7 separate regions of the Homo sapiens genome follow, and regions 2, 3, 4, 5, 6 and 7 are each linked to region 1. Evidence: fine-mapped expression QTL. A gene starts in region 1. Each other region holds a variant in brackets. All regions are shown on one strand. Distances are between the middles of the regions.

What was found.
Region 2: its variant is fine-mapped to the expression of MAEA in whole blood (TOPMed, PIP above 0.99). The same link has a PIP of 0.9 or more in breast and tibial nerve.
Region 3: its variant is fine-mapped to the expression of MAEA in whole blood (GTEx, PIP 0.97).
Region 4: its variant is fine-mapped to the expression of MAEA in whole blood (TOPMed, PIP above 0.99).
Region 5: its variant is fine-mapped to the expression of MAEA in whole blood (TOPMed, PIP 0.99).
Region 6: its variant is fine-mapped to the expression of MAEA in whole blood (INTERVAL, PIP above 0.99).
Region 7: its variant is fine-mapped to the expression of MAEA in whole blood (INTERVAL, PIP above 0.99).

Annotation. Positions count from the first base shown.
Region 1 is chr4:1,287,825-1,291,887 of GRCh38, forward strand. MAEA (macrophage erythroblast attacher, E3 ubiquitin ligase) reads left to right here and starts at 2,067. Exons shown (of 9, transcript NM_001017405.3): 1 at 2,067-2,158. The coding sequence starts at 2,090. It overlaps LOC105374347 (a long non-coding RNA gene), which reads right to left and starts at 1,747. Exons shown (of 3, transcript XR_925046.3): 1 at 1,061-1,747. It overlaps LOC105374346 (a long non-coding RNA gene), which reads left to right. Exons shown (of 2, transcript XR_925043.3): 2 at 202-470. RefSeq lists silencers at 1,588-1,997, 2,098-2,377, 3,466-3,648.
Region 2 is chr4:1,328,615-1,332,677 of GRCh38, forward strand. All of the region lies in intron 5 of MAEA (macrophage erythroblast attacher, E3 ubiquitin ligase), which reads left to right. Among named protein-coding and RNA genes, the nearest start is that of UVSSA, 17 kb to the right of the region's middle. The variant G/A (reference allele first, on the strand shown) is at 1,908.
Region 3 is chr4:1,385,418-1,389,480 of GRCh38, forward strand. It overlaps UVSSA (UV stimulated scaffold protein A), which reads left to right. Exons shown (of 14, transcript NM_020894.4): 14 at 451-2,632. The coding sequence ends at 544. Among named protein-coding and RNA genes, the nearest start is that of NKX1-1, 19 kb to the right of the region's middle. The variant G/A (reference allele first, on the strand shown) is at 1,876.
Region 4 is chr4:1,419,112-1,423,174 of GRCh38, forward strand. No RefSeq gene overlaps it. Among named protein-coding and RNA genes, the nearest start is that of NKX1-1, 15 kb to the left of the region's middle. The variant T/C (reference allele first, on the strand shown) is at 2,214.
Region 5 is chr4:1,344,658-1,348,720 of GRCh38, forward strand. It overlaps UVSSA (UV stimulated scaffold protein A), which reads left to right and starts at 2,551. Exons shown (of 14, transcript NM_020894.4): 1 at 2,551-3,103; 2 at 3,433-3,532. The coding sequence starts at 3,435. RefSeq lists enhancers at 268-791, 792-1,314, 3,160-3,239 and silencers at 1,610-1,699, 1,920-2,249, 2,490-2,929. The variant C/A (reference allele first, on the strand shown) is at 2,366.
Region 6 is chr4:1,231,163-1,235,225 of GRCh38, forward strand. The region is part of intron 3 of CTBP1 (C-terminal binding protein 1); the gene reads right to left. Among named protein-coding and RNA genes, the nearest start is that of CTBP1, 16 kb to the right of the region's middle. RefSeq lists an enhancer at 2,765-3,320. The variant T/C (reference allele first, on the strand shown) is at 1,529.
Region 7 is chr4:1,336,361-1,340,423 of GRCh38, forward strand. It overlaps MAEA (macrophage erythroblast attacher, E3 ubiquitin ligase), which reads left to right. Exons shown (of 9, transcript NM_001017405.3): 7 at 501-634; 8 at 2,062-2,257; 9 at 2,714-3,777. The coding sequence ends at 2,809. Among named protein-coding and RNA genes, the nearest start is that of UVSSA, 8.8 kb to the right of the region's middle. RefSeq lists an enhancer at 2,822-3,340. The variant G/A (reference allele first, on the strand shown) is at 2,421.

The DNA.
Region 1 (4,063 bases):
GCCTCGGCCTCCCAAAGTGCTGGGATTACAGGCGTGAGCCACAGCACCCGGCCAAGTCTAGCAGCTTTTTAAGATCTAGATATGAAACATTTGCCATCTATTGCTTCTAATGGTGGCCACCTATGAGGCTTCATCTATGTAATAAGAACGTTGGTCTCCACAACCCCTTTTAACCCAGATGCTCCTTTCTCTCGATTCCAGATCTTTAGATAAGCACTCTTTCAACCAAATGCCAATCAGAAAATCTTTGAATCCACCTGTGAGCTGGAAGCCCCGCTGTGCTTTGTGTTGTCCTGCCTTTTCGGACCAATGTAAATCTCACATGTACTGATTGATGCCTACATCTCCTTAAAACGTATAAAATCAAGCTGTAACCCAACCACCTTGGGCATGTGTTCTGAGGACCTCTTGAGGCTGTGTCACTGGTCATGATCCTTAACCTTGGCAACATAAACTTCTAAACTGATTGAGATCTGTCTCAGACACTTTTTGGTTTACAAAAGGACTAATTCAAATACAGTTTTATCTTCCAACATAAGAAAACCTAGAATGAATGACTCAAAGGTTGTAGAGGGTTAAACAACCTCTCCAACGTGCAAACCTCTGCCTTATAATTCCTAAGTATTTCTGACTGTAGATGGTACTAGGATAGGATCATTTTACCATGGAAATGAAACCCGTGTCCTTTCCTTTGGGTTAATCTTGAATCCCTGGTGAAGTGAAGGCAGTCTCTAAGAGGAGTGCAGTCCATCCAACTGCTGCAGTGCTCCTGTGTACTACTGGGACCATCCCGGAGAGTGGCAGACACGATGCGAACCGTGAAAGGACGCAAAGAGTACAGAGTGCATGCTTCCATCTCTATAGGAAGGTCAGGAACGCTGTTACGGGGAGCAGGGTTAGAATGATGGGGATATAGCCCGGGAAGGGGCAGAGGAGCTTTCTGTGCCACGGGAAATGTCCTAAATCTCAACCAGGACACGGTTAGATAAAAGTGCAAATATGGGTGAAAATTCATTAAAGCTGTATAGTTAAGATTTGTGCACCTCACTGTAAAACTTACTTCAAATGTCTAAAAGACTGGAGTCTGCAGCCACACACTTGAGGAATAACACTTTCCTTAGTCCCAACTCCTGTTTAAGTAAGACAGAGAAAGATTCCACAGTGCGGGTCGGATGTCTTGCGGCTGTAACATGTAGCAGCCTCCAAGCGGAGGTTCTCCCTTCATCGCTGTGTCACCTTAGATGTTTTTCCTTTGTTTAAACACCAAATATTTTAAAAGTTGTTTAGAAATGTGTTATGTGAAACACAAGGTGGTTTAATTGGGACGTCATTTCCTAATTAATAAAATCTAATTTCAGTTTTATTTTGGAAAGGAGGGAGACGGGTGGTGTTTGAAAGGCTGAGAATGTGAAGTGGCTGAAATGAAGGCAGCGCACGACCTGGATGCCAGCGCTGCCCGCCCTGCAAGGAGAGGGCGGAGAGGCCACACGCTTCTCATGCTTCGGGAGTTTCTGTCCATAAATCAGTTTTAGGTACTGGGCCTTTCCTCTTCCGTTGGGAAGTCGGAGGTTCCACATCAGGATTCCAGCAGCTGTAAATCGGTCAAAATAAGGCCAAAGAAAAATAGCTGGCTACAGGCGCATGCGGCCAGGCGTTTTGTTGGCGTTGCCCTTGGTACCGCAGGCACGAGGGACCCACAGGGGACCACCCCGCGGGAGCCCCAAGTAACTGGACGGACGCCAAGTCCCCCAGCCCGCTCGGCCCCAGCTCCACCCGCCCGGGCCGCAGCCCGCACCCCATCGGCCCGCCCCGGGCCAGGAGCATCCCCAGCTCCGGCGTCTGCGGCCTGAACCCGGTAGCGAATTCAAGGTGGAAACCGCCAGCCGGGGCTATCGTTGATTGGCTGAACGAGAGGAAACCCGGCAGTGATTGGTTCGCGCCTTCTTCCGCCTCCGGCCGACTGGGCGGATACGATTGGTGCAGGGGCATCGGCCCGCCCCCATCCTGCTCCGGCCGGCGCGTGGCGTCATTTCCCGGCGTGCAGCGCGCTCGCGCGTCCCCCGCCCGCTAATGTTTTGGCCGCTTCAAGATGGCGGTGCAGGAGTCGGCGGCTCAGTTGTCCATGACCCTGAAGGTCCAGGAGTACCCGACCCTCAAGGTGGGCGCCTGCGCCGCGCAGGCTGAGGGCAGCGAAGGCGTCTCCAGCCAGTGCCCTCGGGCCGCGAGGGGCCGCCCCGGGAGGGCCAGCGGCGAGGGCGGCGGGAGCTGGGCGCGGCCTCGCGGGGCCGTGCGGGCTTCTCAGGGGCGCCCGGTCCGCGCCGGGCAGGTGTGGCGGGGGCGGCGGCTTTGGCCCTGCCAGGCGCCCGACTGTGGCCCCTCTGCTTGAAGAGCTGCGTGAGCCGAGCCAGCGACGACTCTGGCAGCGCTAAGGGTGGCGAATTTGGGGCTGGGGTGGAAGCCGGAGTTTGCGGGGCGTGGGGTCTCTGGCGCCCAGGCAGACGGAGTGCGCGGCGTGCCCAGCCAGTGCCCGGCCGCCCTCCCGGGAGCCCAGGGCTGGGAGGTGCCGGCTGCGCCGGTCGCTAGTTAGGAACTGTAGGGAGAAACCTCACGGCCTGATGGCACCCAGCGACCTTTTTGATGGGCGTCACCAAACCTGAAATACAGCTCTTGCCGTCCGGCTGCCGGTTGCGTGACCTTGGGTGGTCACCTAGCCACGTCGCACTTCTTAGAATGAAATTTGTGCTCCTAGTAGAAGGAGCCGATACTTGTTCTTTACCTAGTTAGTAGAGGATTTGATATGAAGCACCTGGGAAGGAATTCCTTAAAAGATCAAGGTCATAGCTTTCCTAGAGCTGCGGCTGAGCTTCGTGGTTCTGTGTTGCCTTCCTGGAGAGCTGCGTAGTTTCTCTCTCCTCCCAGAGCGCCCTGGTGTTCACGTCCGTCTGAGGACGGACGGTGTGGCGACAGGTGTGGAGGATGCAGTATGGCCAGGTTGCTGTGCGTTCCCCCAGCCCCAGGGCAGTTCAGCGAAGGGCTGAAGAGCACAGGCTGTGAGCCATCCTGCTGGGGTGTGAATCAGGCTTCTCTGTATTCGTCCTTACTGGGAGACATCAGGGCCCGGTTGGTGACTGTTTATTCTTGTCAGGTTTAAGCAGTGGTAGCGCCTGTGTCACCTCAGGGTGAAATGAGTGACCACGTATTGTTTCAAACAGTGCCTAGCATTCATTAAAAGGTCCCTGCTACAGTTAGCGCTGCTGAAGTCAGGCTGTACCCTGCTGTAGCTGGTCTTCATAGGAAAGCAGAAGCAAGCTTCTCCTCCTCTTTATTAACTAGCGGTTTATTTCATATTTTTAAAAAGAAACGGGGTTTCACTGTTGCCTAGGGTGGTTTTGGATTCCAGGACTTAAGCGATCCTCCTGCCTTTTGACCTCCCAAAGCGCTGGGCTGACAGGTGTGAGCCACGCGCCCGCCACACTAATGGTTTCGCAGTGGGGTTTCATGGTGCTTGTGTGTCCAGCACTTCTTTTGATCAAGGAAGGGAGGGCAATGTTGCTGACGTTACCAAAGGTCTAGCCTCTTGCTAGATCCCTCCAAGATGTAGGTGGTTGGTTTTTAATACTCAGTGACATTGGTGGATCTCTGTTGGTTTAGAGATGGAGACCCTGCAGCTGAGAGAAGTCTATACAAGGACATTGTGGTGATATTAGTAGGGAGTCCTAACCACTGACCACTTTGTCTCACGCAGTGCACCTCCAGGCCTGTCATTTCAGCTAACACACAAGAAGGTTTGAAGATCAGAACCGTGGTGGTTTGTCACTTCTGGTACTGGCTGGTGAATGTGGGAAACACTAGATAGGAAAAGTTTCCAGAAATCCTTTCATTGTGTATTGAAGGAACTAGGAAGGGAGATGGAAGGTCTCCGGAAAGGATTCTTCTTCAGGTCTTCTGCTGTTTTGTAATCGTGAATGTAATTTGTATTCCAGAGTGATTGCATAGCTTCTGATTAAAATAGTCATGCAGATAGTCATACAGGTAAAGAAATATTATAGTGTCATAATTTCTC
Region 2 (4,063 bases), 41 kb after region 1:
ACTCCATATCCACCTGCAGTGGGCCGGGTGGCCGAGTGTTCCACAGAAGGCCCATTTGGAGAAGTGGGCGTCTCACGATGAGGTGCTGAGGGTGGTCCCCAAGACGCACGGCAGAACCGCGGCAAGTCCCTGCCCTTGCGTGGACCCTGGAGAGGCCCGGGGTCCTGCTCCGGCTCCTGATGCTGACCTGGGCGCATGGTGGCAGGTCAGGCCTCGTCTTCACGCACGAGGGAGCCAGGCCTGCAACGAGGTCCCTTCTGTGCCTGAGAGGGCTAAAGCGGGGATCTCGGGACCCGGGCCAGTGGAGAGTGGCGTGTGAGCATTGCGGGGACACGGCCAGGGGCCCCCTGTCAAGAGGAGGGGCTCCCGCTCTGCTCTGGCCTCCGTGTGGCCTCGGTGCCTGTGTCGCTGGCCTCTGTCCGGCGGCAGTCTGCTTCCATCCCGAGTCAGCCTCCGTCTCCTTGAGGGCCCCGGCCACTGTCAGCCCTGGAGTCTGAAAACAAAACGTGTCCATCCCGGAGTCCCTCCGTCACAGATGTCTTCATCTAGGTGGCAGCTGGTTCCGCATAGGGTCTGTTGACCTGTTACCCCCACTCCGCATAGGGTCTATTTGCCTGTGTTACCCTGGCTCCGTGTAGGGTCTGTTTACCTGTGTTCCCCCCGCTCCGCGTAGGGTCTCTTTGCCTGTGTTCCCCCCGCTCCGTGTAGGGTCTCTTTGCCTTGTTCCCCCTGCTCTGGGTAGAATCTGCCCTAGAGACTCGCGGGGCCTCCACCTCATAATGTCTGAGCCGAGCTCAGAGCTGTGCCCTCTGCGGCCTCGTCTGTTGCAGGGGAGCAGGCAGGTCCCAGGAAGTGCGTGTCCTTCCTCCCGCAAGCAGACACGTGCTGCCTCGAAGCCTCAGCAGCCAGCCGGGCAGGCATGGCAAACAACACCCCAGTGTCTCGGGGGCAGGCGCAGTGTGAGCTACATCCTCTGCTGGGGCCGTCTTGGGAGTGGTTCTCCAGGTGCCAGGGCCTGGTCAGGGAAGTCCGGCCTCAGCTCAGCGTGGCCCTGGAGCCACCCACAAGGCACACGGGAGCTGGGCTGGGGTGGCAGGTGGGGCATCGGCAGGACGTTTGTGGGGTGAGGGAGTGCGGGTGTTTGGCTGGGAGCCCAGAGGGTGTTGTGTATCACTCACTGAGGCTGGACAAGAGGGAAGGCGGAGAAGCCTGGCCACATGTCTCCTGAGGGCTCCAGGCAGGGCCCTCTCACCTGCTGCCAGGGTCCCAGCCCGCAGGAGCTTCCCGTCCACCTCTGAACTCACGGTCCACATGGCGCTGGAGCGTCGGGCACCATCTACAGGGCTTGAGGCCAGCAGCCTAGCCTCTGGGTCCACTGGGGCAGGCAAGGTGAGTCCTGCTGTCTGTGGAGCCAGCGTGCTGGGCCGGGCAGGGGGCCTCGTTGGCTGGGGTGGCTGCAGCTCCGCCCTGCCTGGGGCATTTGTGGGTTTTTGCGAAATGCAAAAGTATGAGCTGCTAGTGATTAACTTTTAACGCCTTTAATTTTTAGTAAATGAGTAAGTGAATCCCTGACCCCAGGCGGCTGGGACCTGGCCTGTACTTCATGGGCTTTGTGTGAGCAGCTCCGTGCCGTCTGTCGCACACCCACACCTCAGCCTGGCCAGGCACAGTTTAGGAATTTTGTCTTCTGGGTGTTTCTCTCTCTCTCTCTTTCCGTGTGTGTGTGTGTGTGTTTTGAGGTTGAGTTTTGCTCTGTTGCCTGGCACAATCTCAGCTCACCGCAACCTCCGCCTCCCGGGTTCAAGTGATTGTCCTGCCTCAGCCTCTGAGTAGCTGGGATTACAGGCGCCCACCACCACGCCCGGCTAATTTTTGTATTTTTAGTAGAGATGGGGTTTCACCATGTT[G/A]GCCAGGCTGGTCTCAAACTCCTGACCTTGTGATCCGCCCACCTTGGCCTCCCAAAGTGCTGGGATTACAGGCGTGAGCCACCGTGCCTGGCCCGTGTGTTTATATTTTTAAAGAAAAATGGAAGTTTTTGTGTTTCTTATGTTAGCTGCATTTAGTTTGTTAAAAGTCACGGTTTTGTTTCCCCTGTGTCCTGTGGATGCATACCGTGCTGTTCTCCCCGGACCTGCTCTGAGGGCCCCACATCTCGGCTGCAGTTCTCTGTGTGTTGGGGCTGAATGCTGGCATCAAACGATCTGAAAAGAGTCAGCCGCCACTGTTAGGTTTTCTGTTTCTGTCTTGGGGTCAGGATTTGTGGATCAGGGACCTGGGGTGCGAGGTGAGGCAGCTTGTTAGGCGGATGATGTCTGTCTGGGGTTTGATTGATGGTGAGATAAGACGCGTAAACCAGGTCATGCAAATGAGATCTTGTAGATGTCAACCACGGAGATTAAATTTCCTCTCTTCAGCAGCTCTGGGAGGAGGTGAGATGCCCGTTGGCCGTGTTCTGTGCACGTCTTGGCGTGTGACGAAGGGTGACTTGTCTCCAGAGATGGAATGAGGGGGTTGGGTGGGGCTCCTCCTGGACTCAGACCCACGCCCACCCACACGCTCCAAGGAGGGGGATGCATGGGCACTGGAATCTCGGATGGCCGTCCCCAGCCCCTGCACACGCACCCTGCGGGGTCAGCCGTGTGGACTCACCCCCGACTCCCAGTCCCTGTATGCACCCTGCGGGGTCGGCCGTGTGGATTCACCCCCGACTCCCAGGCCCTGCACAGGCCCTGGGGCGTCAGCCATGTGGACTCCCCAGGCTGGGTCCCAAGCGTGGACGCCCCCCACTCCCTGCTGCCCCGGGCTCTCCTGGTGGTGCTTCCAACACGTGGTCCCCGTGCTATCCATCAAGGGGCTGCTGGGCCACCTCCTACACTAACTCCAGTCTCTGCGAGACACTGCATCTTCTCCAAGGCCACCGTGAGCGCCTGGCACCTCCTCAGCCCTGTGTTCCTTGGTACATGCCTTGTTCTGGACAGCACAGGGCTGACTCACACATGGGACTTGAGGCCCCTGGTTCTGTGCATTGGGGTCGCTTTGGCAGAGGGGCCCTGAGGGCTGAGAACGTGGGGTGCACAGGGGCCCGTGTGAGGGTCAGGACATGGGGGTGCAGGCCCTCAGGACAGCCAGAGGGACAGTGACCCTGTGTGTGGGGGGGGGCATGAGAATGGGGGCCCTGGGGGTGAGCAGGTGCCCGCTGGTCAGCTTGAAAGGGATCTGTTATGTTCTGCTTTGGTTTCTTGGTTGCCCAGCCTTAGACTGGAGTGGGGTTCTGGCCTGGAGTAGGCCTGTGTGCATCCCGCAGAGTTGGCTCAGGAAAGATCGTGGCTGCATGTGGTGTGTGGCACGCTCAGGGCTGAGAGGGCTGGGCCGGATCTGCAGGGAGTCCAGCCTGTGGGCTGAGGGAGGCTGTTCTTCGGAAGGTTGTGCTGGGCGTCACTGCCAAACAGCAAGGACTGCAGTTGAGAAGACTACACGTTCTTGGTCCGCTGGGGCCACGGGGTCCGTGGGGGCGAGCATCTGGGGAGAGTGGGAATCCTCAGGGTTTGGGTTCCTTGTAAACCAGAATCGCTTTGGAGAGCCCTCGGGGGCAGGTGCCATTTGCAGTTCTGGTGTTTTCCGTGGGTTGTCTGTGTGGCTTGGGTGCCCTGGTCCCCTGGAGGAAGGAGTGTCTGGTAGCTGCTCCTCCAGCCTCTGGTGAGCCGCACCTCCCGCCATCCCAGCCCCACCCAGCAGGTCGGCTTGGAGTGAGGCGATTACTTTGTACCTAGACTCTGACATAAAAGCTGTTAGCTCAGATTTTTCAACTTAAAAATGCAGGCCGGGTGCAGCGGCTCATGCCTATAATCCCAGCACTTTGGGAGGCCGGGGCAGGAAGATGGCTTGAGCCCAGGAGTTGGAGACCAGCCTGGGCAACACAGCGAGAATCTGTCTCTAACAAGATGTTTTTTACATTAGCTAGGTGTGGTGCTGCACATCTGCGGTCTCAGCTTCTCGGGAAGATCGCCTGAGCCTGAGAGTTCGAGGCTACAGTGAGCTGTGACTGTGCCACTGCACTGCAGCC
Region 3 (4,063 bases), 98 kb after region 1:
CCCCCCTGCTGCAGCCCTCCAGGTTTCCAGCCCTGGCCGTGGAGCCGTGCGTGCAGCAGCGGGCAGGGCTGTCCTGACGCCTCCTGGCTGCATCTCCTGCGAGGCCGCTCCCCGGGAGGCCAAGGGGGAGGCTGCCCTCATCCTGGAGTGCGGGAGGCCACGGGAGAAGTGCCAAGGTGGGGCTGGGGCCACCTTCACCGCGCAGAACCACCCGCCGCAGACTCCGCTTCTGGGACCTGGGGCGGCCCTTTCTAAGCCTGTCTGTCTCGGGCCAGGGCCAAGGGGCCCGTCGCCCATCTGTCTCTGAAGGTGGCACCCACAGGCAGTCTGTCAGTGTCCGAGGGCAGCAGTTGCCCCAGGACCAGTGCCTAACTTTGGTGATGCCGCCACTGGGAGCCCAGGCCCCTGGCGGAAGCCTCCCAGGTCACATCTTGCCTTGTTTCCCCACAGGGCAGCTGTGCGGAGGGTAGTGGCAGCCATGAACCGGATGGACCAGAAGAAGCACGAGAAGTTTTCAAACCAGTTTAACTACGCACTGAACTAGAGAGCGGGGCCCAGTGCACTGGCCATCAGCACTTTCTCCCTCTGCCAGTGTCTCAGGACAGCAGAGTGGGCGTGGGTCTGGGCAGTAACCATGCTTTGTCTATTACTGTGTTTGATGTAAAGAAATGGTGTGTTGCAATGCCCTGAAGGTACGGCCGCTCTGCTGCTACAGGGTTCGGCATCGTCTGGTGATGGGTCTGGCCTCGCAGAAGAGGCCCTCGGGCCTGGAGATGTGAACACAGGCAGCGACCCTGTTCCAGAGGGCTTCTGCGAGTCCTCGTGAGACCAGTGCTTGTCGTGGTGTGGGGTTCAGCACGGACGGAATGTGTGTGCAGCTCAGCCTTCAGAGCGTGCATTCCCCAGCCAGGAGGCGACCACTCAGAGGAACTCTGGGAAACCCACTTTTGTGCAAATGCTGTTTTTAACACAAACACAAAGGCTAGTGAACCGTTCAGTCATCTGCTTTCTGTTTCTGGATGTGCCTTTTCATACATGTGTCCTCTTGTCCCTGGCTTCTTACACTTGGCGTTGTTTTTAAGGTTTATCCATGCAGTTCCCCTCCAATGTATAAAACAAAGGAGGTGAAAACCTGTCCATGCGGAAGCTTGTGCACCCATGTTCACAGCAGCATTGGAGAAGGATACCGAACATCTTCTCGTGGGCTTACTGGCCATTTGTGTATCTCCTTTGGAGAGGAGTCTATTCAAACCTCTTGCCTATTTTTAATTGAATGATTTATCTTGAGTTGTAACAGTTGTTTTTTTTGTTTTTCCTTTTAGAGATGGGCTTTTGCTCTTACCCAGGCTGAGTGCAGTGGCAGAATCATAGCTCAGTGCAGCCTCAAACTCCTGGGCTCAAGCCATCCTTCCACGTCAGCCTCCCAGGTAGCTGGGACTACAGGCACACACCACAACACCTGGCTAATTTTTTAAATTTTTTGTAGAGATGAGGTCTCACTGTGTTGCCCACGGTGATCTCGAACTCCTAGCCTCAAGCGATCCTCCTGCTTCGGTCTCCCAAAGTGTTGGGATTACAGGCATGAGCCACCACTCCTGGCCAGGAGTTTATATGTATACTGTGGATACTAGATCCTCATGTGATTTGCAAAAACTTTATTTATTTATTTATTTATTTTTGAAATGGAATCTTGCTCTGTCGCCAGGCTGGAGTGCAATGGCGTGATCTCGGCTCACTGCAACTACCACCTCCTGGGTTCAAGCGATTCGCCTGCGTCAGCGTCCTGAGTAGCTGGGACTACAGGCGCGCACCACCACGCCCAGCTAATTTTTGTATTTTTAGTAGAGACGGGATTTCACTGTGTTGGCTGGGATG[G/A]TCTTGATCTCTTGACCTCGTGATCCACCCACCTCGGCCTCCCATAGTGCTGGGATTACAGGTGTGAGCCACCGCACTCAGCTGATTTGCAAAAACTTTCTTCCATACTGTTGTTTCACTTTCTGGATAGTGTCCTCTGAAGCACAAAAGTTAATTTTGATGAAGTACAGCAATTTATCTGTTTTTTTCTTTTGTTGCTTATGCTTTTGCTGTCACATTTCAGAAGCCATCACCTAATCCAAGATCACAGAGATTTACACCTAGTTTCTAATAAGCATTTTATAATTTCAGCTCTTATGTGTAGATCTTTGATCCATTGTGAATTAAGTTTTGTGTGTGGTGTAAGAGCCCACATTCTTTTGCATGTGGATATCCAGTTGTCCCAGCACCATTTGTTGAAAACATTATTTTTCCCCATTGAATTATCTTCGCACCATTATTGATAATCAGTTGACCAAAAATGTACAGGCTTATTTCTGGGCACTTGACTCTATTCCATTGACCTGTTTAACCTTATGCCAGTGCCACAGTGCCTTGATCAGTGCTGCTTTGTTGTGAGAAGTTTTACTTTGTTCTGCTTCAAGGCTGTTTTGACTCTTCTGCATCTCTTGCATTTCCAAATGAATTTTAGGATCCACTCATCAGTTTCTTCAAAAAAAAAAAAAAAGCAGCTGAGATTTTTGATAGGAATTACATTAAATCTAGAGATTGCTTTGGAATGTATTACCGTCTTAATATTAAATCTTCTGAGTCATGAGCTTCTGATTATCTTTCCATTTATTTGGGTCTTTTTAAATTTATTTCAACAGTATTTTGTAGTTTTCAGTATATAAGTTTCTCACTTATTTTGTTAAATTTACTCATATTTTATTATTTTTGATTTATAACCAAAAGGACTATAAATGCAATTATAAATTATTAAAAGATTATAAATTGCATTTACAAAAGCAATCACAAATGTAATTGTTTTCCAAATTTCACTTTGGGGCTGATCATTGCTAATATGTGGAAGTACAACTGACTTTTGTGTATTGATCTTGTATCCAGCATTCCTTGCTGAACTTGTTTATTCATTCTAATTAGTTGTATGTTCCCTAAGATTTTCCATACACAAAATCATGTCATCTGCAAACAGCTTTCTTTCTAATCTGGATTTCTTTTATTTCTCTTACCTAATTGCTCTGGCTAGTACCTCCAGGACAATGTTGAATAGATGTGGTGAGAACAGACATCCTCGTCTTACTCTTGATCTTAGCGGGAAGCTTTCGGTCTCTCACCATTGAATGTGATGCTAACAATGCAGTTTTGTGTAGATGCTTCTATCAGGTTGAAAAAGTTACCTTCTCCTCCTAGTTTGTTGAGTGTTTTTGTCATAAAGTATTGAATTTTGTCAGATGCTTTTTCTCCATCTGTCGAGATGATAGTATGATTCTTGTCCTTTATTATAGTGATACAGTATATTACATTGTTTCTCATATATTGAACCGACCTTGCATTCATGGGGCAAATTCTACTTGTTCATGGTGTATAATCCTTTTTCTATGCTGCTGGCTTTGGTTTGCTAGGATTTTGCATCTGTATTCATGAGGGATATTGGGCTGTAGTCTTTTTGTGATGTCTTTAGCTTTAGTCACGTCACTACTGACCTCATAGATTGAGGTGGGAAGTGTTCCCTCCCCTCCTATTTTTTGGAAGAGTTTGTGAAAGATTGTTGTTAATTATTTAAACATTTGGTGGAATTTACCAGTGAAGGCTGGGCTTTTCTTTGTGGGATTTTTTTCCCTAATTCAGTATCTTCATTTATTATAGATCTGTTTAGTTCCAGTAGTTTGCATCTTTCCAGGAGTTTGTCCCTTTCTAGGTTCTTTGTTGCAATCTGTTCATATATAATGGTTCATAGCATTAAAAAAAATTTTTTTAACTGACAAGGTCTCACTCTGTTGCCCAGGCTGGAGTGCAGTGGTGCAATCATAGCTCACTCCAACCTCAGACTCATGGGCCCAAGTGATCCTCCCACCTCAGCCTCCCCAGTAGGAAGGACCACAGGCATGCACCACCACATTCAGCTAATTTTCTGTCTTTGGTTTTGTTTTGTTTGAGACAGAGTCTTGCTCTGTCACCCAGGCTGGAGTACAGTAGCACAATCATGGCTCACTACAGCTTTGACCTCCCAGACTCAAGCAATCTT
Region 4 (4,063 bases), 130 kb after region 1:
GTGACGGTATCTCTTTCCAGCTGTGACGAGGATGCCACCTGGGCTTCCTGCTGACCTGGCCGAACCCTGCCAGGTGTCTGTGAGGACATCCTGCCCTCACAGTGATTGTAGACAACCGTTGCCTTTTCTAGTGATCAAAGTAACACGTGCTCGTGAAAAAGCACAGAGGAGAAGCAGCATCTCCCATAACCCACAGCACAGCGACGGCCCAGCTCACACCTTGCCGTTTTCTGCTTTCCTCTCATCTCGTTTTCTGCTTCCTAAAAACATAAATGTTGGCCGGGTGCTGTGGCTTACGCCTGTAATCCCAGCACTTTGGGAGGCCGAGGCGGGCAGATCACTTGAGATCAGGAGTTCGAGACTAGCCTGACCAATATGGTGAAACCCCATCTCTACTAAAAAAAAAAAAATACAAAATTAGCCGGGTGTGGTGGCGAGTACCTGTAGTCCCAGGTACTCGGGAGGCTGAGGCAGGAGAATTGCTTGAACCCAGAAGGTGGAGGTTGCAGTGAGCCGAGATCTTGCCACTGCACTCCAGCCTGGGTGACAGAGCGAGACTCTGTCTCAAAAAAAAAAAAAAAAACCATAAATGTGGGCGCTGCACCTATAGCCTTGGGCACTTGGATGCTGGCCCCCCCTTGTATCCTAGGCATTTCTCGTTGTCATAGCAGACTTCGTAACACAGGTTCTTACCGGTCCCATAGAACCCTGTCACACGGAGGGCGTGAGCCGTCCATCCGTGTGCCTAGGCAGTCTGGCTTTCTGTGCCTGGAACCACTGCTGTGTAGATTCTTGTTTAGACTTGAGTTCACCTCTAGGAGACACCAGAAGTGATGGGTTGGGTTAAAGGGAGGGAATTCCTAAAGGCTGGGTAACGTCTCCGGCGTCACTGGCATGGGCACCATCTCACAGGGTGGCATCCCCGCCTCCTTCTGTGGCGGTTGCCATTTCTGTGGACACTGGTGAGAAGGAACATTTTCCCTCATGAATATTAGCCACGTAGCTTCTTTTTTTTTGTGAACTTTGTCTTCTTTGTGAGCTCTGTCTTTTTTCCATTTGGTCAGCTATTGAGGTTGTTTTGTGGGTGGCAATAGGTTAAAAAGTAACCTTGGGTTGGGCATGGTGGCTCATGCCTGTAATTTGGGAGGCCGAGGCAGGCGGAGCACCTGAGGTTGGGAGTTCGAGGCCAGCCTGGCCAACCTGGCGAAACCCCGTCTCTACTAAAAATACAAAATTAGCCGGGCGTGGTGGCAGGTGCCTGTAATCCCAGCTACTCGGGAGTCTGAGGCAGGAGAATTGCTTGAGCCTGGGAGGCAGAGGTTGCAGTGAGCTGAGATCGCGCCACTGCACTCCAGCCTGGGCGACAGAGGGAGACTCCATCTCAAAAAAAAAAAAAAAAGTACCCTCTACTATAACATATTTCAAACACACACAAAAATACAGCGCAGAGTAAGATCAGCTTCCTGGGACCTGTCACTCAGATGCAACATCTGTCAACATTTTGGTGTCAATATGGTTTTGTGTATCCAAAGCCACACCTTTATTCTGGAATCTTAAAATATACCTTCAGACATTAAGTTGCTTCACCTGTAAATATTTCAGGCAAGAAAAAGAAATAAAATGTAAACATATTGAAACAGAAAAAATAAAACTAGCCCTGCATACAGACGACATGATTATCTACGTAGAAAATCCCAAGGAAAAAGCACCCAGAATTCATAAGTCAGCAAGGTCAGAGAAAAAGCCTGAAAAAGGTCAATCTAATTTCTATATACCCACGATCAGTGATTAAATCCTAAAAATTCAAAAACATTTTATAATAGCTCCAGGTTAAGGAAGTTCCTTCCTATTCTTAATTTTCTGAGAAATTTGTAAAATCATTAACAGATGTTGCATTTTATCACATTTTTTTTCCGTATCCATAGGCTCATATGGCTTCTCTCGTTGCGTCTGTTGACATGGTGGATTGTGATGGCTGGCGTTCTCTGTTGAACAGCCTTGTGTTCTCAGGGTAAACCCCACTTGGCCATCATGTGCTCATGCTTTCCATGTTTCTGGATTTGATCGCTAGTGTTTTGTTGAAGATTTCCACATCTATGTGCCTGAGAGGTTTTGTCCTGTAGTTTCTTTTCTTGTGATGACTTTGGTGTTGGTATTAGGGGAATTCTGGCCCTGCGAAATGAGTTGAAAGTGTCACTTCCAGCCGGGCATGG[T/C]GGCACATGCCTGTAATCCCAGCACTTTGGGAGGCTGAGGCGAGTGGATCACGAGGCCAGGAGATCGAAACCATCCTGGCTAACATGGTGAAACCCCGTCTCTACTAAAAATACAGAAAATTAGCCGGGCATGATGGCGGGCGCCTGTAGTCCCAGCTAGTCGGGAGGCTGAGGCAGGAGAATGGCCTGAACCTGGGAGGTGGAGCTTGCAGTGAGCCGAGATCGCGCCACTGCACTCCAGCCTGGGCGACAGAGCAAGACTCCAACTCAAAAAAAAGAGAAAAAAATAAAATAAAATAGAAAGTGTCACTTCCACCTCTATTTTTTGATTAAGTTTTGTATAGAATTGGAGTTATTTTTATGTTTAAATATTTCGTAAGATTCACCAGTGAATTTATCTGGACCTGGAGTTTTCTTTTTTGGGAGGTTATTAACTATGGATTCAACTGCTTTAGTGGAGATAGGGCTGTTCAGGTTATTAGTTCTTCTTGAGTGAGTCTTGGTAGTTTGTGGATTTCCAATTGGTCCAGTCATCTGAGGTGCTGAATCCGTGCATGGAATGCTCCTTTGTTATCCTTACAATGCCTGTGGGCTCTGCAGTGACAGCCCCTCTGTTATGCCTGTAATGGGTCACTTGTATCTTCTCTTTCTTTATCAGTTTTACCTATTTTTATTGACTTTTCCAAAGAACCAGCTTCTGATTCCATTGATTTTATCTAATATTTTTGTTTCTATTTTTCTTAACATTTTATTTACTTATGTTTTTTGAGATGGAGTCTCGCTCTGTCACCCAGGCTGGAGTGTAGTGGCGCCATCTCAGCTCACTGCCTCTGTCTCCCAGGTTCAAGTGATTCTTCTGCCTCAGACCCCCAAGTAGCTGGGATTACAGGCATGTGTCACCACACCTGGCTAACTTTTGTATTTTTAATAGAGACGGGGTTTCTGCATGTTGGCCAGGCTAATCTCAAACTCCTGACCTCAAGTGATCCGCCCACCTCAGCCTCCCAAAGTGCTGGGATTACAGGCATGAGCCACTGCACCTGGTTATCTGTTTTTAATTCCACTGACGTCGGTTTTATCTTTACTATTCTTTCCTCTGATTGCTTTGGTTTTCTTTGGCTCTTGTTTGTCTAGTTACCTAAATTAGAAGCTTAGGTTGTCAATGAGATGTTCTAATATAAGCATTTATTGCTAAAAATTTCCCTCTAAGAGCTGCTCTAACTGCATACCAAAAATTTTGATATTTTAAATTTTCATTTGTATTTAGTCCAGAATGCTTTCTAATTTCTTCTAGGAGAACTTCTTTGATCCATGGATTACTTACAAGTGTAATTGTTAATTTCTCAGCCTCTGGGGTTTTAAAGGTATCTTTAGGTCATTCATTTCCAGTTTAAACCCACTATTGTCAAAGAACATGCTTTACATAATTTTAATTCTTCTAAATCTGTTAGTTTTGTTTTATAAGCCAGGATATGGTTTCTCTGGAGAGTTCCATGTGTACATGACAAGAACGTGTGTCCTGCTGCTGTTGGATGGCAGATGCTGTAAATGTCATTTAGAAATTGTTGGCTGATGGTATTGTTCTCCTGTATCCTCCCTCCTTATCTACCTAATTGTTCTGTTGATACTGAGAGGACTGTTGAGGCCCCAGCTAGAGTTGTGAGTCTGTTACTTTTCCTTTCAGTTAAAGGTCTGTTATGAGGGCAATACACGTTTAGGTTTTTATGTCTTCTTGGTGAATTGACCCTTTTGTCATTATGTAATGTCTGTTTACCCCTAATAATTTTTCTCGTTCTGAAGTTGACTTTATCAGATATTGTAGCCATTCCAGCTTTCTTTTGATGAACATT
Region 5 (4,063 bases), 57 kb after region 1:
TCATGAAACAAAGATCCCTATTTTCAGGGACTGTATGTTTTAGGAGTGAAGAGAAAAAAGCGAATCACCTAGTAAGACAGTAAGTCTGTGTGACACAAGGGCCAGAAGTGCCCTGGGAACAAGCACGGCAGGTTTAGAAAACGGATGGGGGGTGTTGAGCCAGGGAGGTGAGCGGGTGCAGAAGTATTTGCTCAGGGTGAGACATGAGCAGTGGCTGGAAGGAGGCAAGGAACTCTGTGGATACTGGCAGAAGCTTCCCGGCAGAGGGATCCGCTCCCCAGAGGCCGTGTGGCAGCAAGAGCAGGCTGGAGAAGTCAACCGGTGGGATGCAGGGGGCAGCAAACACAGGCCACGACAGGTTTTGCCTTGCCCTGGGATGGGAGCCGTCGGAGGATTTTGTGTAGAGGAATCCTGTGATCCGACCTTAGACTTTCAAAGGTCCCTCTGGTTGCTGCATGATGGTCTAGGGGTACCAGGGTGCAAGGGAAAGACAAGGTGACGGCAGTGACCTGCTGCAGGGGTGGCCAGGAATTGGCAGTGGCAATGAGGCAGTGGGACGTGCTCAGATCTGGATGTGTTCTGAAGGTAGGGCTGTCAGGATTTGCAAACCAAATGGGCATGGAGTGAGAGGAAGAGAGAAGCCCAAGTGAGTCAGATAATTGGTCCAAGCGAACAGAAGGATGCAGGGCAGGCCCAGGCACGGTGGCCCAGGCACGGTGGCTCACGCCTGTAATCCCAGCACTTTGGGAGGCCGAGGCGGGCGGATCACCTGAAGTCAGGAGTTCGAGACCAGCCTGACCAACATGGTGAAACCCCGTCTCTACTAAAAATTCAAAAATGAGCTGGGCGTGGTGGCGGGTGACTGTCATCCCAGCTACTCGGGAGGCTGAGGCAGGAGAATCGTTTGAACCCGGGAGGCGGAGGCTGCAGTGAACCGCGATCGTGCCACTGCACTCCAGCCTGGGTGACAAAGCGAGACTTTGTCTCAAAAAAAAAAAAAAAAAAAAAAAAAAAAAAGGCTGCAGGGCCATCAGCGGATACAGAGGGCAGTGGACGGGCAGCTTGGCTGTGCTGTTGAGCCTGAGGGCTGAGAGGACACCCCGGGGCAGTGTAAAGGAGACTGGACTTAGCAATTGGTAAGAAAAGTTGGATAAAGAGAGGGTTTTGTTAGTATGGGAGAAACGGCACCCTTTTATACTAATGAGAACTAGTAACAACAAAAAAAACCACGCTGTAGAAGACAGAGGGAAACTGCTGGATGGGTGCCTTGGAGGAAGCCACAGGCCGGGGATTGGATGCACAGGGCAAGGGGCGCTGAGGGAGGGTCTGGCTGCAGCTTGCTCAGTGAAGCAAGAGGCAGGGTGAGGAAGGGGTGAGGCGGAGGAGCGGCTCGGGGCTGGCTGCAAGCTAGGAGCTGGGAGCCACTGACGCCCAGGGACAGAAGCTGGTGCTGCAGAGAGGGGCGGCGCAGGGAGTCCCTCTTCTTTTCCTTTTTAAAATAATTGCTTTACTGAGATATAACTCACACATCCTGAAACCCACCCTGTAAAAACACGATTAACAGAGTTGTGAGCTACCACCACCGTAATGCAAGGGCACGCCCATCCCCCCGAAAAAGAAACCCCGGCCCGCCGCCGGCGGCCCCCGCCCTGCACCCAGCCCCGGGAGCCCAGTCGGGCGTCTGCTCTGCGTGGCCTGTGCCGGGCGCCCCGCGAGTGGGGTCCACACCACGCTCCTCCGAAGCCACGGTTTCCCAAGCGCGGTCTCCAGGTCCGTCCGTCCGCAGCCGACCTCGCACTCCCCTGCGTTCGAGGCTGCGGACTTCGGCGGCAGGACGGACGGCGCCTCTGCTTCTCATTCCGCCCAGGGCCAGCCCGGGCCCAGGGGTACCTGCTGTGCGTCTGGCGCCGAGGTGGGCCCCGAAGACCCCCAAGCCCGCCCAGGGATTCCCTTCCCGAGGCCGGAGCGGGGAGGCGCCGCGGGGTTCAGGGCGCCCTGCGCGGGGCGAGCTCGGGGGCGGGGGCCCGCGCCCGCCCGTCTGGGCGGTCCTCACCGGCCCTCTGCAGGTGAAGGGACCTGGCTGCGAGCCCGCGGGCGGGCGTGGCGTTGAGGCCCAGACCGGAACTTCCTTTCGGCCTCAGTTTCCCGGCCGGCCCCGCCCCCGGCGCCCGTACATGCGGCCCCTTTAAGGACTTTCTGCGCCCTCCCGCCTCTTTTTTCTCGTGCGTCCCCCTCCCCACCCCCGGCAGCCTGCCTCGCCCTCGCCGGGAGCGCGCCTACGTCACCGCGCAGACCTCGGCCGCGTCTTTGCGCCTGCGCCTCCTGGGCTGGGGTGAGCCATTGGCTGTCGAGCTCAGGGCACGTG[C/A]TAGGGGGCGGGGCCTTGACCGGAAAGGGTGGGGCAACGGCGAGAAAGGCCGCGTCGAGCGGTAGGTGCAGTCGTCGCTGTGGTGACCCCAGGTCCTGATGCGTCCGGCCCAGGGCCAGCCAATGGCGGTAGAGGTCTTGGGCACCTGACAAGAGGGGCGGTCCCCCCGCCGGAAGGGGCGGGGCGAGGCGAGCGGCCGCGTCAGCGGTAGGTGGGGCTGTGGTTACGCTGCCGGGCGGGGGTCGCGCCGGTTCGGTCCCCGGGGCTCTGCGGGCGCCGGGCAGAGACCTGCGGCCAGGGCGTGTCCCGTGTGCCCGAGAGCGCCGGCGGCGGGGCCGGAGGGCGGGCCCTGGGCCGAGTGACAGGCCGCAGCCCCCCGAGCACCGTCGAAGCCGGCGCGCCCGCCCGGTGCAGCCGCTGTGCGAGAGCGACCCCGCGGTCCAAGCCTCGCGTGGCCCTGCCGGGCCCCTTCTTTCCCCGAGTAGGGCGCAGCTTCCCAGCCTCCGCCCCGGCCTCGCCTGGCGCTTCCTTCCGGGTCCTTCGGCCTTTCCCTGGCGGTGCGGCAGGCCCTCGCCTCATCCCACCAGGCACGCCGCGGTGCTCGGCCCTGGGTATCCGGGCAGGCTGCCTCCGTTAGGGCCGCCCCTGCTCTCCGGACGCGACTTTTCATTGGTCTCAGAATTTCTTGGCTCCTCTTGGCCTCTGCAGCCTTGCTGGAGGCTGCCCTGCGGAATCTGAGTGAATAAGGGAAACAGCAACAGTCACGTTGGGGAAAAGCTGATTCGGACAGCGCCACTGGTTCCTTTAACGCACGACCCTCAATGCAGCGTCCCACACACGGGATTGTAGAGGTCCCGAGTTTAAGGTTCACTTTTAAAACTGCAATCACCGCCGTAAAGGCCTTGCTGGACACACATATTTCCCAGAGAGGCACCCACAGATGGACCCCAGCCTCAGGGTCCTCCCGGAGCTTTCGGTTTATAGTGGAACCCAGTAAACACGTTAATAACACCGAGAGCTATAAAATACAGATGGTGATATAGCATCTCTGCCTTACTTATTTCTAGATATGGATCAGAAACTTTCGAAGTTGGTAGAAGAGCTCACAACTTCAGGAGAACCCCGACTAAATCCTGAGAAAATGAAGGAACTGAAGAAAATTTGCAAGTATGTCTTAGGGTTCAGTAACAGTAACTGACTGGCCCACTGAGCCCAGGACACACACAGGGCCCTGCCCTCCTGCCCCCACCTGGGAGAGAACCACCCGAGGGACACACCCAGGACATTTTCTCGGGGCCCTGCAGTACCCGGCTCTGACGGGTGGTCATGTTCTGGGGTCGGGGCGTGTGGCGTTGGGGACCCCACTGCTCTGTGGTTGGTGCTTCTCTTCATTCCCATTTGTGTGGTCTGGAGCACATCCTGTAGGAGTTCTTGAGTGCACAAATGTGATTCAGAGAGAAACGTGCATCTTTTTCTTTGCTGCTGGACTTTTCGAAGGGAAAGAATAGAGCTTGCTGATGGGCGAGTTGGTCCATCGCCTTTAGGGTATGTCCACCTCTGTTCACTTCCTCCAAGGAAAACGCCGGAGGGGATCTCTGCCGTCACCCTCAGGCAGCCAGAGATTCATGGGGGAAGCAAAACTTCCCCTCGGAGGGTGGAGCATAAGTCGAGGACACTGATTATTCTGTATCCTGTGTT
Region 6 (4,063 bases), 57 kb before region 1:
ACGTGGCGGCCACGTCATCCACAGGTCCACAGGCCAGGGTGCCACAGCGGCTCAGCCTCAGGGTCTACCTTCCTTTCCCCCTCGTGGCTGCCACGTGGCTGCTCCACCCCGCCTGTTGCATTGGTCTCCCACGGAGAAAGTCTGCAGGAGGTGGGTGCAGCCAGGTGTGTCCCTTTAGATCGGGGCCCAGCAGCCTCCCAGAAACCACCTCAAGCCAACACCCACTGATGTGTCCCCTCCACCGCCAGGGGCTCAGCCCCACTCTGCTCAGTGCCCTCAACTCCAGTGCTCAGAGCAGGCTGGGGAAAGCTGGGTGCCCAGGAAGCTCGGCTGCCACCGGGCTGGAAACAGACCCCAGGACGCTCCTGGTGGCAGCTGGCTCTTGGGGGTCAGGAAGGGGCCCGCCAAGCCCACCTCCTGCCATGCAGTTCTGCCACCTGCTTCTGTGCTCAGGACTCGACGTCGCACTTACCTTTCCAGACCTCGTGCACAGGGGTGGCTTACTCTGTGAAACTGCTGCTCACATCAGGTCACCATCAGGGCAGATGTTTCTCTACGACACGCAGCCACATGCAGGCCCAGGGTGGGGCTGGGCTGAAGACCGCAGGTTTCAGATTTCCAGAGAAACTGCCAAAGCACCATCGAGACCGGCACGGCCGTTTCTATCCCACATGAAGGGCCAGGCCCAGGCTCCCTCAGCACGGCTGGTGCAGGGCTCAGCGCAGGCCAGGCCAGGGGTTACCGGCGGTGCCTGCTGCACCTGTGAGAACCCAGGAGGCGCACCCCGGTTCTCATACACCGCTCTGTCTGTACCAAACGCCACCGCCCTCATCCATTTTCTGTCGGGATTTTTCTGTTTCTACTGATTGGGAGGAGTCTTTGAATATATAAACTTTTTCATTTACTTATTTTACAGACAGGACCTCGCTGGACTGCAGTGGTGTAATCATGACTCGCTGCAGCCTTGACCTCCTAGGCTGAAGCGATCCTCTGGCCTTGGCCTCTGGATACGCTGGGATGACAGGCACAGCCCCTGCACCAGCTCTGAGTGTTATCAGACATTCACCCTTAGGCTGGCACACAAATTGAAAATACCCAACCCCTACCTCTCCCGTTTTTATTTTTTAAATTTATTTTGCTATGTCATTCTTTCTTTTTTTCCTTTTTGAGACAGAGTCTTGCTCTGTTGCCCAGGCTGGAGTGCAGTGACACGATCTTGGCTCACTGCAACCTCTGCCTCTTAGGGTCAAGAGGTTCTCCTGCCTCAGCCTCCTGAGTATCTTGGACTACAGGCGCGCACCACCACGCGTGGCTAATTTCTATATTTTTAGTAGAGACGAGGTTTCACCATGTTGCCCAGGCTGGTCTTGAACTCCTGACCTCAAGTGATCCACCCGCCTCAGCCTCCTAAAGTGCTGGGATTATAAGCGTGAGCTGCTGCACCCCACCTTGCAATGCTGTTACTTCTAATTGCCATTTAATTAAAGTGACCTTTTCCTCTGTAGTATCACATTTTCCACAGAAAACA[T/C]TGTATGTTCTGTATTGTCATAACCTCAGGTAATAAACACATTCTCTTGCAAGCGTTCCTCTAACTGCTCTTCATTCAAACACGTGGCCGCTTCAGTAGGCAGCGAGCATCTGTGGTGGGGGGAGCTGCTGCAGTTCCTGAACGGCCACCCCAGGGGCCCCAGAATTCACCGACTCCCCAGTCCTCGGCCCACACACCTGAAAAGCCACTGCCTGAGTCCTTGGGTCCTGCTGGGTGGGATTGTCTCTGATCCTCTGTCCTGTCTACTCTTGGTGGTACCAACACTGCCCAACTGGATCTTCTAGACCTGAGAGGGGGTCCTGGGGTCTGGACATGCCCTGCGGGGGTCGCACTGCACCCGAGGCTCAGCTGGGCACTGGGCAGTCTGCCTGGAAACAGGCCCCTGCATACGGTGATGGGGTCTCTGTCCTCTTGGTCCTAGAAGCGACTGTGACCCGGTATTAAGGTCAGAGCCCACGGCAGCCCGTCTCTGTGCCAGCCGCCAGCAAGAGACCGAGGGGCTCCAGGCCTGTCCTACACTCCATTACCATGACAACGCCAGCTTGTGTGTTTTTCCCAGTCACCATGACAACGCCTGCTTGTGTGTTTTTCCGGGATTTCTAATCACTTCGTTTCCTGCACAGCCCCAGCACCTCTGTCTGGCGGAGCTTTCTGGTGGCCTCCCCACCCCCAAGGCGTGGAGATGCTTGTCTTGCAGGAGTGCAACTGTCCAGCTGGCTGCAGGTCCTCGCAGGCCACTGCGTCCTGTGCCCTCCCGGAGCCGCCCTGCCGCTCCAGGCCCCGCAGCCCACACCGGACGCAGCCTCCAGGCTCCAGGGCTTCCTTTTTCTTGCTCAGCAGTTTGATCAGATGTGCAGTGCTGGGCTGAAAACCCTTCTCCTGTGGAAATTCCAAAGCAGGCGAGTGGGGCTGGGCTGAGTCTTGTGTCCCGGTGGGTGACATCCCCCACCCGTGGTATCAGTAAAATCCCAGTCCTGAACCTGAACACTGGGGCGCCTCCCAGGCCCCGACATTCTTCCCGCTCCTCCTGTGACCGCACTGACGGTATCACGTTCTCTCCCTCCACGGCACTCAGACGGCGGCGACCTCCAACCAGCTATGCGGGAAGTTTCTGCCCCAGGAGGCAGAATTCCTGACTAACAGTGGCACACAAAGCAGGTGTTCAGTTTCCTCCCACGCCAAAGCCTGGAGACAGGGAGCCTGCGGCCCCGCTGCCCTCTCCACAGCCACGAGGGTCCCTGCCTCCTGCCTTGTTGCTCCACGGTTCCCAGCACGTGGCTCCCCTCACAGTCCAAGGTGGCTACCCCGGGTTCCAGCCAGCAGGGACGAGGAGGGGACGGCAGGGAGAGGCCCTGCTCCCCTCTGTTCTGGAGCTCAATCCTTTGGCCACCCCTAGTGGCAAGAAAGCGTGGGCAGCCAAGTCCTCCCACAGGACCACACACTGCGAAACGCGGACTCGGCATCCAGGCAGCCCCTGCAGACTCCACACACAGCCCCGGGAGGTCACGGCTTCTCTTCACCTCTCTGGCTTCTGCAATGTCCCTGTGTCTTTGAGCTTCCTGTTTTTATGAGATTTTCACTCATGTTTTTAATTTCAAGCTCTCCTAGTTCTTGGGGGCTCCTTTCTGTGGCGCCGGCTCTGCTTCTGGTTAGGGGCTGCTTCAGGCCCCTCCAGGATGCCAGGACGGTTCCCAACACTCTCGTCTCTTCCAAGAATCCAGCTGCATCCCCTGGGGCAGTTTTCTGTGTATTTATGTTGTCCTTTCTCTGCCCTGGGCTGTGCAGCCTGGGTGGGGAGCAGGAAGTCTGTCTCATGCCAGGGCCCACGCCGGCCCCACCCCAACCACTGATCTGCATTTTATATGAACCTGTCAAGGCAGTTTGGGATTACTGCAATTTTAGAAAAACATCTGTTTTGCCTTAGCTTTCCAATTTGTTGGCAAAACTGTTTGAGTATTGTTTACGACACCAAAAGTTTTCTACGAGCCTCTTTTTTATTCTTACGTGTGCATCTTTAATACAAATCCAGCTTCCCAATGAGAAAACCGTACCTAACAAAGGGCACTGTCCAAACCGAGCTGGTGCCACACAACTCCCTCAGGTGTGCACCACGGGCAGTTCACCCACAGCCCCTTGCATGCGTGTGGACATGCCCACGTGACGTGCCAACGTGCCCATGTGCCGATTCCAGACACCGGCCTGCCGGCGGCCCCCCCACCTACACCCCGGGCCACTGTTTCCGTCACGCTAATCCTATCACCTGGGGATGAAGAGATCATACAGTGTGCACCCCTTGAAACCAGCTTCTTCACTCGCCATCATGCTGCCGAGATCACCCAGGGTGTGGCAGGGACCCAGCGTTCATGCCTGTTGCTGAGGAGGACACCGAGGGAGGTGGCCAGCATTTGCCTGGCCACTCACCCACTGAAGGACAGCCGGTGGGGGGCGTCCTTCTGGTTTGGGCTATGGTGAGTTAAGCTGCTAGGGAGCATGACGTGCAGGTCTGTGTGTGGA
Region 7 (4,063 bases), 49 kb after region 1:
CGACAGTGTGTTGAAATCAGAGTTAAGTCAGCACTCACCCCACAGCATGTTGAAATCGGAGTTAAGTCAGCACTCACCCCACAGCATGTTAAAATCAGAGTTAAGTCAGCACTCATCCCACAGTGTGTTGAAATCAGAGTTAAGTCAGCACTTGTCCCGCAGCATGTTGAAATCAGAGTTAAGTTCATACTGGCCTCGCAGTGTGTTGAAATCAGAGAGTTAAGTCAGCACTGACCCTGTAGCATGTTGAAATCAGAGTTAAGTCAGCACTCATCCCGCAGCATGTTGAAATCATAGTTAAGTCAGCACTCATCCCACTGTGTGTATCAGTCAACACTTGAGGGAGTTATGCTTTGTGCTGACCCTTAGTGCAAAGTGTGTGGGTCACTGGGGGATGGCTGTGGGCCGATGGCACCTGCTTCACCATGGTCCACGTTTTTAAGCTGTCCCAGGAGCTTCCCTGGGAGCATCCCCAGGACCCTCTGCTCTCTGTCTTCCAGGACCTTCTGGACCCTGCACGGTGGCGGATGCTGATCCAGCAGTTCCGGTACGACAACTACCGACTACACCAGCTGGGAAACAATTCTGTGTTCACCCTCACCCTGCAGGCTGGCCTCTCAGCCATCAAGACACCGTATCCTACCTCCCGTGCGCAGTGCGGTTTGGCCTGGGGTTGGCATCTTTGGTCATATTTTAACACGCTGACCCTGCACCTTGCCACTCTTGTCCTCCCACCACAGACAGCCCCGAGCTCCCGTGTGCTGCACTTGCGTGGTGTCTGGATGGTCGGGGTGGGGCCGTGTTGAGGGGCCTCGGATGCGTCGTGCAGCCTTCACTCTGGGAAGTGGCGCGCTTCCTCTCTCATCATCTCAGAGGCCGCCATGGGCATTGATCTAAAAGCCCGATTTTGATGTGTTCTGGCAGCCGGCAGATTACCATTCAGAATAGTTTTCCCGTGTGATTACCAAGAACCTTGCCTGTGACTGACTCTGTCCCGCCTGTGACTGACTCTGTCCCACCTGTGACCGACTCTGTCTGCCTGTGACTCTGTCCCTGCCTGTGACTGACTCCATCCTGCCTGTGACTCTGTCCCACCTGCGACTCACTGAGTTCCTGCCTGTGACTCACTCGGCTCCCGCCTGCAACGGACTTGGTCCCTGCCTGCGACTCACTGTGGCCCTGCCTGTGACTGAGTCTGTCCCGTTTGTGACTGATTCCTTCCTGTGACTGACTCTGTCCCACCTGCAACTGACTTCTTCCTGCCTGTGACAGACTCTGCCCCTGCCTGCGACTGAGTCTGTCCCTTCCTGCAACTGAGTCCATCCCGCCTGTGACTCTGTCCTCGCCTGTGACTGACTCTGCCCCTGCCCTGTGACTGTCTCACCTGTGACTGACTCCGTCCTGCCTGTGACTCAGCCTCTTACTGACTCTACCCCTGCCTGTGACTGACTCTGCCCTCTCCTGTGACTGACTCTGTCCCCACCTGTGACTGACTCTGTCCCCACCTGTGACTGACTGTCCTCCTGCAACTGACTCTGTCCCCGCCTATGAATGTCTTTCATGTGACCTGCCTCAGGCCCAGAGGGCAGTGAGTGTTTCGCGATTGCTGCTGGTACCTGGCTGTGCCGGGGTATGAATGAGACTCAGGCCCCCTCCCTTGTCCCCTCTTTGTGGAACTCTGGGCGAGAGGGCTGGCGTGCTTGCCCACTGCCTGTTCCTAGGTGCCAGCAGAACGTCCCTGCTGGGTGGCTCTTGTCCTGCCTGGAGAGGTTGCGTGGCCGGGGAGAGGGCGGCGGGCGACGGAGCCACTCTGTGCCTGTGGTCCTGGTGCTGGAGGCCGGGGTGAGAAGGCGCAGGCTTCTTGTCTCCACCGAGGCCTCAGTGGGGCTGTTTAGCTGTCGAGTGCAGCACTTCCTGTGCCTCGAAAGACAGCCCCGTGTAGTCAGCATGGCGCCCACATAGCCAGAAGGGCACGCAGCCCAGGGCAGAGTGGCCACAGGGGGCTGGGCTCACCCCGGCTGCCCTGAGTGGCCCCCAACCCTTCCTTGACCCGATGCTCAGACAGTGCTACAAGGAGGACGGCAGCTCCAAGAGCCCTGACTGCCCTGTGTGCAGCCGCTCCCTGAACAAGCTGGCGCAGCCCCTGCCCATGGCCCACTGTGCCAACTCCCGCCTGGTCTGCAAGATTTCTGGCGACGTGATGAACGAGAACAATCCGCCCATGATGCTGCCCAACGGCTACGTCTACGGCTACAATGTGAGGGGGGCAGGGCAGGGGGGCCAGGCTGGCACGCATCGCCATCGGGACAGGGCTGTGTGGGACGGGCAGGGCAGGGGGGCCAGGCTGGCACGCATCGCCATCGGGACAGGGCTGTGTGGGACGGGCAGGGCGGGGGGCCAGGCTGGCACGCGTCGCCATC[G/A]GGACAGGGCTGTGTGGGGCGGGCAGGGCAGCGGGGCCAGGCTGGCACACGTCGCCATTGGGACAGGGCTGTCCTCTCGCCCCACCCTGCCTTAGCTTCGTTCGAAATGGATGAAGGGGTGGGAAGGACAGGCGAGGTGGCCCCGGGATTTCTTTGGCAGGTGTGCCTTCGGGAAGGAACTTTGCCTGAGAGGATGAGTCATTCCCTGGTGGTTCATTGTGGGGATTTTCCATGGAAATCCGTGTGTACGTTGTAGTCGCTTGCCTTAATGCATTCCCGGTTTTATTTTTCAGTCTCTGCTTTCTATCCGTCAAGATGATAAAGTCGTGTGCCCGAGAACCAAAGAAGTCTTCCACTTCTCACAAGCCGAGAAGGTGTACATCATGTAGGCCCCACGTCGTGAAGCGCACGCCTCGGGGACGGGCTGCAGTGGGCGGGGAGGCCACGCCTTCCTCCTGTCCCACGCTCCAGCCTGCCGCGGCGTTTCTGTTTCTTGCGACCAAAGATCCGTGAGCAACGATAAATACTCTTAGGAAGAGAGAAAATAAGGTTTCATAAGTTTGTACTTGAAAACATTTGGATTGGTAGGATTTTGTAACACGTCAACCATTTGATGCTTCTGAAAAGTACTTTCAACTTGCGAAGGAAACTCTTCTTTAAAGACTGACCTAAACACCGAGGGAAACTTAAGAACGTTTAAAATATAGGAGTCCGTGATTTCCCTGTGTTTTCAGTTTCTTTCCTTCTGTGAACGATGAGACTTGGAGAACGGGCTGGTCCTTCACCACTTCCTGTTGGCCCTGGCCTGGCCGGGGAAGGTGGCAGCGGCACCGGACTGACCTGCAGTGACCCGCGATGCCGCGCCACGAGGGACACTTATGGCTTCATTCGAGAGCTGCTGCCAAAACGCCTGGCGCCGCCACCGTCGGGGGCTGGCTTCGAGGACGCCCGCCTGCCTCGCGGGTCGTGTCCGCGGGACTGTGTTCGTACGTGCATAGTTTCGATATCACATCGCGGGGCTGTGTTCGTAGCTGCGTCGTTTCGATATCACACCCTCTGTGTGCCGCCTTACTTCCTGCTTCGAGAATGTATAACGTGGAAATCCACGGGACCAAATTTCTGCAGAGGCCTTGCCGGATGGTTCCATAACTGTAGAGTCTAATTGCTATCCATTACAGAAATTAATCGTTCAGTTGAAAGAAGTACTGATGACTTTTCAAAACAAATGAACCACCGTAGCTGACAGAGAACCGTATCGTAGAGGTTTGTAGTTAGTGCTTATTTTTGCATGTTGATGTTGACTAGCTAATAAACTGTAAATGTAAACCATGCGAATAAAATGGTTTTCTATTTCTCATTTCCGTGTGAGCCGAGGCTGCCGTGCGTTTCTAACACCGAGGTTGTGTTCTGCTCCTCCCCGGGGCCCGGGCAGCATGGCGGGCATATGCGTAGCTTCTGGCACCACGGCCACCGGGAGTTGAGAAGCCGGCTGGAGGCCACTCCTGCCCGGACCGCAGTCCTCCTCTCGGGCGCTGCCCTGAGGCGTGATGGCCCCAGCGTCTTGAGGCCCCGGCTTGCAGCTGGGTGAATCAGACACTGGTTCCTGGGACCCACGGGCCATTGTCTGTTGGGGGTGGGGGCTC